Linked DNA regions of Homo sapiens. The protein of the gene in region 2 purifies or fractionates together with the protein of the main gene of each other region. This does not show direct contact. Each region holds a gene or a part of one and is shown on either strand. Other genes may lie near its edges.

Evidence for each region.
Region 1: the proteins of SUV39H2 (region 2) and ZNF644 purify together in Homo sapiens (affinity purification with mass spectrometry; 3 studies listed by BioGRID and IntAct, with this or other methods). This does not show direct contact.

Annotation. Positions count from the first base shown.
Region 1 is NC_000001.11:90,913,815-90,918,641, forward strand, and holds the end of ZNF644 (zinc finger protein 644), read right to left. Parts: intron 4,341-4,827; coding exon 4,238-4,340; intron 3,177-4,237; coding exon 2,984-3,176; 3' UTR 1,490-2,983; downstream 1-1,489.
Region 2 is NC_000010.11:14,894,155-14,899,365, reverse strand, and holds part of SUV39H2 (histone-lysine N-methyltransferase SUV39H2), read right to left. Parts: intron 2,521-5,211; coding exon 1,849-2,520; exon of another isoform or gene 117-1,848; coding exon of another isoform or gene 54-116; intron 1-53. UniProt on the Homo sapiens protein: Histone methyltransferase that specifically trimethylates 'Lys-9' of histone H3 using monomethylated H3 'Lys-9' as substrate.

The DNA.
Region 1 (4,827 bases), on a different chromosome or scaffold from region 2:
TCCCAAAGTGCTGGGATTACAGGCGTGAGCCACTGCGCCTGGCCCAGACTGGAATTTTTTAAAGCCCTAATTTAGCATTAGAAGCTTGCATATCTCAGGCAATGGTAAAAGAATTAAAAGAAAATTAGTCAATACTGAATGATAAATCAGGCCATATGCTGACATAAAAATCTATCATGTAAATTGAGACAATATTTTATACTTTTCTTCTAGTGGGAACCAAATGAAAACATATTATTAATTTTCTAGTTGCCAAATAAAAGACGAATTTTGAATGCTTCCTAAAGAATTCTTTAAATTTTGTAACCCAAATATCTTTACTATGAAAAATGCTCTTTGCTTAATTTACTTTTCAGGAGTCACTCTAGTCTACTGTTTCTGATGTGAAATATTTTATTCTGATGACTGAATTCTTTATATAACTAGAAGGAGAAATAATTGTTTACATATAGTTCAACATATTTTAAAATTAAATGTAGTTTTGATTCCGAAACTTGTGGTCAAACTAATTCTTCTACTTGTATTCACACATGTTGATATTTGGCCTGATAAGACAAAATCATAGAAGTGTAAGAATTAGGAGGCCAGGTGTGGTGGCTCATGCCTGTAATCTCAACACTTTGAGAGGCGGAGGCGGAAGGATCTCTTGAGCCCAGGAGTTCAAGCACAGCCTGGGCAACATGGTAAAACTCTGTCTCTACGAAAAATACAAAAACTAGCCAAGAGTGATGACATGTGCTTTTAATTCCAGCTACTTGGGAGGCTGAAGTGGGAGGATCACTTGAGTCCTGAGAGGTTGAGTCTGCAGTGAGATATGATCACACCATTGCACTCCAGCCTGGGTGACAGAGTAAAACTCTGTCTTTAAAGAAAAAAAAAAAGAATTAGAGTGGAAAGGGGCTCTAGTGATTACTAGCCTTCCCACAAGATTCCTATGATTTTTGTTTGTTTGTTTGGTTTTTACTTCTGGACTCCACTTGCTATGTAGTATGTCTTCCAATTTAAAAATATATATTCAAAGACATATAACTATCAACGAAACTTGTTCAGTAAGAGATAACCAATATATACAGACTTGGTATATTTTCAGTCAAAAGTAAAGAAATGGGATGTTTTAGTTAGTTTTGTCACTATAGACAAATACATAGTTTTTATCGGGACTTTTGTAAAATTGAAAATAACTTACAAGTACTATTCCCTTATCTATTAACCTAAGGATCAGGAGACCCTTGGTTGGGAATGATCCAACTAGTCCAACCTTCTAATTTTGCATATAAGATGGCTCTGAATTTAGAGGTTTGATTAATCATGAAAGGGGGAAAATGATTTTTCTCACATACATTATATTGACCAATGAGGTGATTCTAGAAAAACTATGCTCTGTGATCCAAGTAACCTGGCAAGGATAAACAATTTAAATCCAATGAAACACAACCTGAAGTGAACTATTACCACCAATGATAAAAATAAGAAATGTTTCACATTTTAATTTTCTTTAAACCTTTTTTTATTTAGAGATTTTTCTGGTAAGGAGATATACCATAGGAAAGCAATTTCACTGGCAGTGAGGTATGTATATACTCTACCAAAATACTCCTTATTTTAACTGTTTTTAACTTTATTTACATACGAAGCAAAGAATCAATGCATATCCTTGGTTCAACTATAGTATTAGCCATACTACATGAAATAAAATGGTGCTTGCATACAAAAACTTGTTGTTTGTAAAGGAATCTGATTTCAGATTAAAATACCTAATTGTTTTTGGAAAAAATTTTTAAAAAGAATCACAATTTATCATGACCAAGACACCTGCACCATATTTTCCATTCCTCACAGCACATTTATTTCAGTAATTCTGTTATGTCGGTTCTTAGCATGAGCATAGTGTTACACGATTTTCGTACATATAATCACATCCAAAACAAGTTCTAAAATTTAAATTGTAAACATTCTCATATGTAGAAATATTTTAATTGGTGTATTAAGTTTTGCTAACTGATCAAATTTGGAAGATAATATAAATGAGAACGTCTATTCTAAACTGTGTAGTGAGCATTGTTTATTAATTACATTTCTACAATGTTAAATAAAGTAAGAGGCAAACCTGTCCTGTAAGCATGTCAAATTTTAGGTAAAACATTAAAAAGAAACAAACCTGTTAACAAAAGAATGTCTTGCAATAAAGAACATTAGATTTTTAAAATCTATTATGATACAAAAATGTAAAGGGTAAATAGCATCTTTGTTGACAAAGTAGGAGGTAGCATGGATGCACCACTTTATTGTCTGAGAAATGCAACTGGAGTAAAGAATATTTCCTTACCACAAATAATTTCCAGAACTATGTACATATTTCTTTTAGAAATACTTGTTTAAACAAATCTCCCTCCACTTTTTAGTATAAAAAAAACCGTTCCATGTGATTTTAAAAAAAACACTTACACATCTAGATAGAATAGTACTCTGCCCTATTTGAGTGAACAGTCTCAAACTATGAAGTACATGATATTTAATGCCCTAATTTGAGTAAATTTAGTCAGCGGTTCTTGGTATTATACAAAACACTAAATACATACAAACAAAATATAATATCTTATTTTTCTATGCAAGTCTTGTGGGGAATAAACAGAGCCTTGATTCTGGTAACACTGCAAAAAACATAATTGTCCAATAAGTCTGTCTATAAGTATCCATGTGCAACAGTTTATTAATGGCTGCTTACATGTACTGCTCTTTTACTGAGTGAACACAGTTAACCAACAAAACTTCATAAACCTTAAAAACACATCTTCCACCCTATATAAAATATATAGACTACTTACTGTTTTAAGTATTCAATTTGCTCTGATGTCACTGTAATTCACTTTCCCCCCATTTTCCTGCTTTAGTATTTATAAACAGATAATTTAATGTGGCTTAAAAAAAAAGAATTTCAAATTTACATCCAATTCAAACTGGCTATTTAAAAGGTTTCCTGGTTCTATGAAGCTGCTTCGGCCATTAGTAGAGAAAATGAAGTTTCTGTAATGGAGGCAGGCTTTTTAAGTAGTGACGTGACTTCCACCATGCCAGCTCCAGTCCGTGGAAGATTAGCGTTTACAATATGTCGTTGTAAGTGCTTAATCCAGTCTTCCTGAACAGACAAGGGTCCTCGAAAGACTAGGCCACAAAACCTACAGAAAGATAACAATTCTCTTAACATGACCAATTCTCTTTCTTTAAAACTAATTCACACAAAATCCTAAAACATAAGGAATAAACTTTATCATATTTTAAAGACAGCAATTGATAAAGTTTCTAAAGTCAAATGATTTAATAAAACATCAAAACTCCCAATTCATATGTTTATTAACAGCTATAATAAACTCCAGTAATCTTTGTATAGGTGGGAGCATTATTATTTTAAAATTAACATCTACACATCTTAATTCACTTGAAACAACAACTATTACTCCAAAATATGTCATTCTTTAGAAAAGACCCTTCCCCAGTTTAGCATTCCTTAAATGGCATTGTGTCTATGTTTCTTCATGTGTGTTGTGTGTGAGTGTGAGTACGGAAGAAGGCGTGACTATGAGGGGAGAGAAAATGTGTTCCCAATAAGCGAGAACTCAAGACAACAAAACATCAAACCAAACAAAATTAAACCATACAAACCAAATAAACACAAGGAAAGCCAGTTTTTTTTTCTTTTTTCTGAGACAGAGTCTTGCTCTGTCGCTCAGGCTGGAGTGCAGTGGCACGATCTCGGCCCACTGCAACCTCTGCCTCCTGGGCTCAAGCAATTCTCCTGCCTCAGCCTCCCAAGTAGCTGGGATTACAGGCACCCGCTACAAAGCCTGGCTAATTTTGGTATTTTTAGTAGACACGAGGTTTCATCATGTTGGCCAGGCTGCTCTTGAACTCCTGGCCTCAAGTGATCCACCCATCTTGGCCACCCAAAGTGCTGGAATTACAGGCATGAGCCACCACACCTGGCCAAGCTACTTTAATAAATCACAGTATAATAGATTTACATTACTATTGGCTAATGTAAAAAACTTGATTCATTAGTTGTTGAAGTACGGATATTGTGAGCTGAATTAAGATTTTAAGCCTATCTCCAAAAGTTCATTTATAACTTGATTGTTGAGAATGCACTCTGCCACAAATTAAAAATCCCAAATGAAATAGCTAATATGTTTCAAAGCAAAGTATGAAGAAACTGATCAGATTTGGCAATATAGGCATATACCTGCATCGGAGAATGTAAACCTCGTCAGCACCATGAGGTAATGTTAGCATTTTCTTCTTGCTTCCAGATCTTGACCTTGATTTCTTTTGCTTACAATCTAAGGCTAAAAAGGGGAAGAGAAAGACTTAACATTCCTTATATATTTCAAAATATACATACACACATATTTTTCTAGAGAGGTCAGACAGACCATCTAAATCAGTTAGAAAAAGTCCGCATTCATTTCCCTATTCCCTGAAGCATGCATTCAACTTGCTGATTCTGTAATAGCAGTAATATTATCTGTACTGTACAGCGGTATTATCTGTACTGAAGAATACTATCTGTATTCTTCCTATACTGCCTTTTCAAATAATGCTTTACCACACCAAACTAGAACTGAGAAAATGTAACTAAATAACTTGAAAGTACTAAATTGGTCAATTATTACAATAATGGTAATCTTTACTTTTATAATCATACATAATTTTAATATCTGGTTTAATCTTATTTCCAGAAAAGTAGAACCTTTTATTTGAGATCATTAAATTAAGTTTGCATTTGATTACTGCTCCATTAAGTAGGTCTTCTATACTTGGAAAACTTCGTAA
Region 2 (5,211 bases):
AGGGGAAGAAAAATGATAATGCAAAAGACTGATGACCTTTTTTTTTTAAACAGGGTCTCACTCTGTCACTCAGGCTAGAATGCGGTGGTGCCATCATGACTCCCTGTATCCTTTAACTCCTGGGATCAAGCGATCTTCCTGCCTCAGCCTCCTGACTAGCTGGATCACAGGTGCATACCGCCATGCCCAGCTAATGATTTAGTTTTTATAGAGATGTGGGGTCTCACTATGTTGCCCACACTGGTCTGGAACTCCTGGGCTCAAGTGAGCCTCCAGCCTTGACCTCCCCAAGTGCTGGGATTAACTGTAACTGGTTGATTTATGACTTTTTAAACAGGATTTGAGCAGTACATTGGAACACTGCATTACTTTCATTATAATTAGGATGTTCAAAAAGCTATACAACTATAGCTCTCTACAGGACACAACTGAATGTTAAGGACTAAATCTGCAAGTATATGCTCTAAATATGATCCAGGCACATTTTTCCTATAACTTATATATATGCAGTTACAAATGGAAAATTGTTAAAAATACAGGGGAGAAGCTATGTTAACTTTGGAATGGAAGGTTTTGTTTTTGTAGAATATGTTATTTTCATGCAATTCTGTAAGTCTAAGATCGTCATCTACAGTTCTGCTCTTAAGAACACAAGTTTTATGACACGCTCGGCTTAAGAAACCAAAAGTGTCTAAAGTACTTTATGTTACCAACCAAATTTGGCTGCTGCACTCATTAAGAATGCAACTTAAAAAATTTTGGTTAACAAAAAGAGTAATTTGATTATACAAGATCTTGTATACTGAATAATTTATAATAATCTACCACTGTCTAAAAGTGTAAGAATCAAAACAGCCATCTAATTTAGTTTCAGAATTATAGATGAATACAGATAATTATAGGTGACCCAATTCCAACTAAAAAATCCAGAGTTGACAACTCCAGATATGTAGCCATGCTTGTGTCTTTCTAGTCACAGCTCAACCTACCCTTCAGTTTGAAGCAGTGTGGTGCCATGGTGAAGACTACTGATTTTAGAGCTTTGAATCTCGGTTCTTATTACTATGTGACCTGTGTGACCTTGGGCAAGGTACTCAATTTCTCTACAATAATGGACATAACAGTACTACTTCTCAAAAAAAAAAAAAAAAAAAAAAAAAAAAGAAACAGTACTACCTCACTGAGTTTTGGAGAGGATTAGTGAATTAATACATCAAGTGCTTAGAATAGTATGTGACACACGGCAAATACTTTTTACATTTATATATATATATACATATATATGATTTGTATACAAATAAATTTGCTAGTATTTGTATGGTAGTTTTGAGAATGGTCTTCACAGTTCAAAAGTAAGTTACAGATTATGGATGCAATAAATGCTTGTGTATATTTTACAAAACTCATAAATATAGTATCTTTCATGTTGATCCAAAATAGAGTTCTGCCAACTACATTTAATCATATTTGGTCAAATAGATGAAGTAAATTAAAACTTTCAAGTTTCAAAGCAGCATGTGTTACATCTGAGTTTCTTCTTAGGACTTTTGGGTAAAAACAGTTGTCATATTTTAAATTTTACAAATCCTAGGTTTGACTAGTAGGAATGTGTATTTGTTGAAAGATGACTATATCAATTTGTTTTAACGTATATTTTTTATTCATATAAAAGTTTTTTATTTCTAAATATGCCAGTGAACTCTTCTCCTAAATCTGAATAAATTTCTACATATCTGCAAATGAAAATATCAAAATGTACCAAGTATCTCTTAAAGAGATAAAAAGGTAATTTTCCAAAAGTATAAACCTTGCATGTCCATCATTTACTACGTGGCAAATGAAACATACCTCTCCAACATATTCCATGACAAAACTCATTCTTTTAATCTTCACAAGGGTCTTTACACCCCAGCCACGTCCATTGCTAGTTCGAAAGATGCAAAGCGAATACTGTGTGCCTTTTTGTACAATCCTATTGGGACAATCAGGACCACACTGACACCTTGAGTTGCATTCATAGATGGGAGTACCAGGTGGGATTTTAATTTGTTGGTTTTTATTATAAGCCAAAAGAACTCCAGCTTCAGCAGGACAACATTTTTGAAAGAAGCAATCTGTGCATGAACAACCAAAGGTAGCTTCATTGACTAAGCTGATTCCAGGAGCTGGTTTGTATTCGTTAATGTAATAGAAGTCTGAAGGTGGGCCCTCTAAATCAACAGTATTTTCAACAAATATCATTCCTTTATGATTCTTTCTTCTGTTGAGTTCATCTTGCCATCTCTGCAGAGCTATCCTTTGTTTAGCCTTCTTCACAATGTACTCAGCAATGGCAGGTTTCAAAGTTTTGTTATTGTCTTTTGGAGTTATTGCTTTGCCTTTCTTTACCTGAGATAAATAATTATGCTTGTCATTAGAGAATTGCTGAAGCAGTAACGGGCACTTCAGATTTTGCAAAGGTTCCCAAGTATTTGTAGAATCTGGCCATCCTTTCCATTTTACAAGATAATATTCCATATCCTTAAAATACAAAAGAAAATAAAATGCAAATCAGACGGCTATTTCCCAGTTTTACCAAAAATAATTAAAAATCTTAAAGAGTAAGGTATCCAATACCATTTTTCTTACTAACAGTTCAGAACATGTAGTCACAGGTTCCTAACACATGAAGTATAAATCATACAAATAAAACTATTTTTCCTTATATTACATAAAATATGGAATTTAGATGTGGCATAACATGTTTGATAAGAGGCTAAAGAGTTTTACCTGGAAAAAGACAAAGGTACTGAAACTGATGACTATGTTACTAAATGGTGATTCAGGTTAAACCCAGATGTATTTATTTTGATCATGGAAATAAATGGTCCCAAAGCTAACTCTTTATGACCTAGGTTAGTGGCTTACTTGGCCAGCAATAGATTCAGGCATTCTTAACGTCCATAACTTAATATCAAACACCAGACACAAGGGAACTCATTTCTCAACATCATGGGCACACATTCTCTAGATGTTCTAGAGATGAACTATCCAATACGGTTATTACGAGCCACATACAGCTACTGAAAACTTGAAATGTGGCCAATCTGAATTGAGATATGCTTAAAATATAATACACACTGAGGCTGGGCACGGTGGCTCATGCCTGTAATCCCAGCATTTTGGGAGGCCAAGGTGGGTGGATCGCTTGAGCCCAGGAGTTCGAGACCAGCCTGGGCAACATGGGAAAACCCCATCTTTACTAAAAACACAAAAATTAGCTGGGTGTGGTGGTGCACGCCTGTAATGCCAGTACTAGGGAGGGTGAGGCATGAGAATCGCTTGAAACTGGGAGGCAGAGGTTGCAGTGAGCCAAGATTGCACCACTGCACTCCAGCGTGGGCGACAGAGTGCGAGACTCAGTCTCAAACAAACAAAACAAACAAACAAAAAAAAAAGCAAAAAAAAAAAACCCACACTGAATTTTGAAGACTTTGTATCATACAAAAAAAAGAACACTAAGTAACTTAAAACTATTACAGGTTGAAATAATATTTTGGATATATTGGATCAAATACATTCTTGAAAGCAATTTCAGCTGTTTCTTTTTACTTTGTTCAATGTGGTTAGTAGATGTTGAATGGCATCTGCAGCTTGCATTACATTTCTATTGGACAGCTCTCTTCTAGAGAATGCTGATTTTATTTAGACTCACCCATGACTGGATTAGGTAGCAGGCACTCAAGCCACCTAAGAGCAACTATTCTAATCTATCCCTCAGACTGTTGTTGGCCACGATGCCTTGGCAACAAGGCACCATGGTATCTTGTCTTTTCACTCCAATGACTATGTTTTCCTCCCTTAAAGTAAGGCAATGCCACGTTTAAGTTTCTTTTTAAAAAGGCAGTTCCGGCTGGGTGCGGTGGGTCACGCCTGTAATCCCAGCACTTTGGGAGGCAGAGGTGGGTGAATCACTTGGGGCCAGGAGTTCAAGACCAGCCTGGCCAATATGGCGAAACCCTGTCTACTAAAAATACAAAAAATTAGCCGGGTGTGGTGGCAGGCACCTGTAATCCCAGCTACTTGGGAGGCTGAGGCAGGAGAATCGCCTGAACCCAGGAGGAGGAGGTTGCAGTGAGCCAAGACTGTGCCACTGCACTCCAGCCTGGGCAAAAGAGTGAGACTCCATGTCAAAAAAAAAAAAAATAAAAGTAAAAAATAAAAGATAAAAAACACAGTTAAGTGTGTCTAACAAATTTTGAAGTAAAGTCTCAGTAATTTTTTTTTTCTTCTGGAATAATATATAGCCACATGCCCAAGGGTAACATTAGATCATAAAATGTCTTCTAAGATAAAAAGGTGATTAAACTGCATTGGACAGTTACATTATCATTTTAAGTCTTAGATACTGAAAAATCTTGTTAATTGAGATAACTGCTTTTCCCTGAAAATTTTAAGAAAGTTTTTATTACAAAGTACAGAGGTCCATGACAGTTGTTTTAACAGTCATAATGCATTAATGACAAAAGGTCTAAGCCATGTGATATCTGCCATGTTGCTGAGGCACAAATTGGGCTGAGGGACACCATGAGGCAGCTGTGCAGGAACCAGGCGCCCACCCAGGAGTGGGCTTATTTTATCCCCACTATCTGCATCTTAATATTTTGTTTCATTATATTCTATTCAACAAGCAGTAATCTTTGTGAATTAAAAACTTTGCGGCCGGGCGCGGTGGCTCACGCCTGTAATCCCAGCACTTTGGGAGGCCGAGGCGGGCGGATCACGAGGTCAGGAGATCGAGACCATCTTGGCTAACACGGTGAAACCCCGTCTCTACTAAAAATACAAAAAATTAGCCGGGCGTGGTGGCGGGCGCCTGTAGTCCCAGCTACACGGGAGGCTGAGGCAGGAGAATGGCGTGAACCCGGGAGGCGGAGCTTGCAGTGAGTCGAGATCGCGCCACTGCACTCCAGCCTGGGCGACAGAGCGAGACTCCGTCTCAAAAAAAAAAAAAAAAAAAAAAAAAAAAAACTTTGCTTTCTTTTGAAAATTGGTCAAAAGTTTTCTTCTCTTAAAAAATGTGATTACATGGTGTGCAGAAATGCACAAAAACTGTAATTCTGTGGAAATATATATTGCGGTTCCAGGAAAAAAAAAAAAAAAGCCTAGATGTACATTTTAGTATTTGTCAAATTGAGCCCCACTAAAGCCTAAGGATTTCTTCCTCCTTTC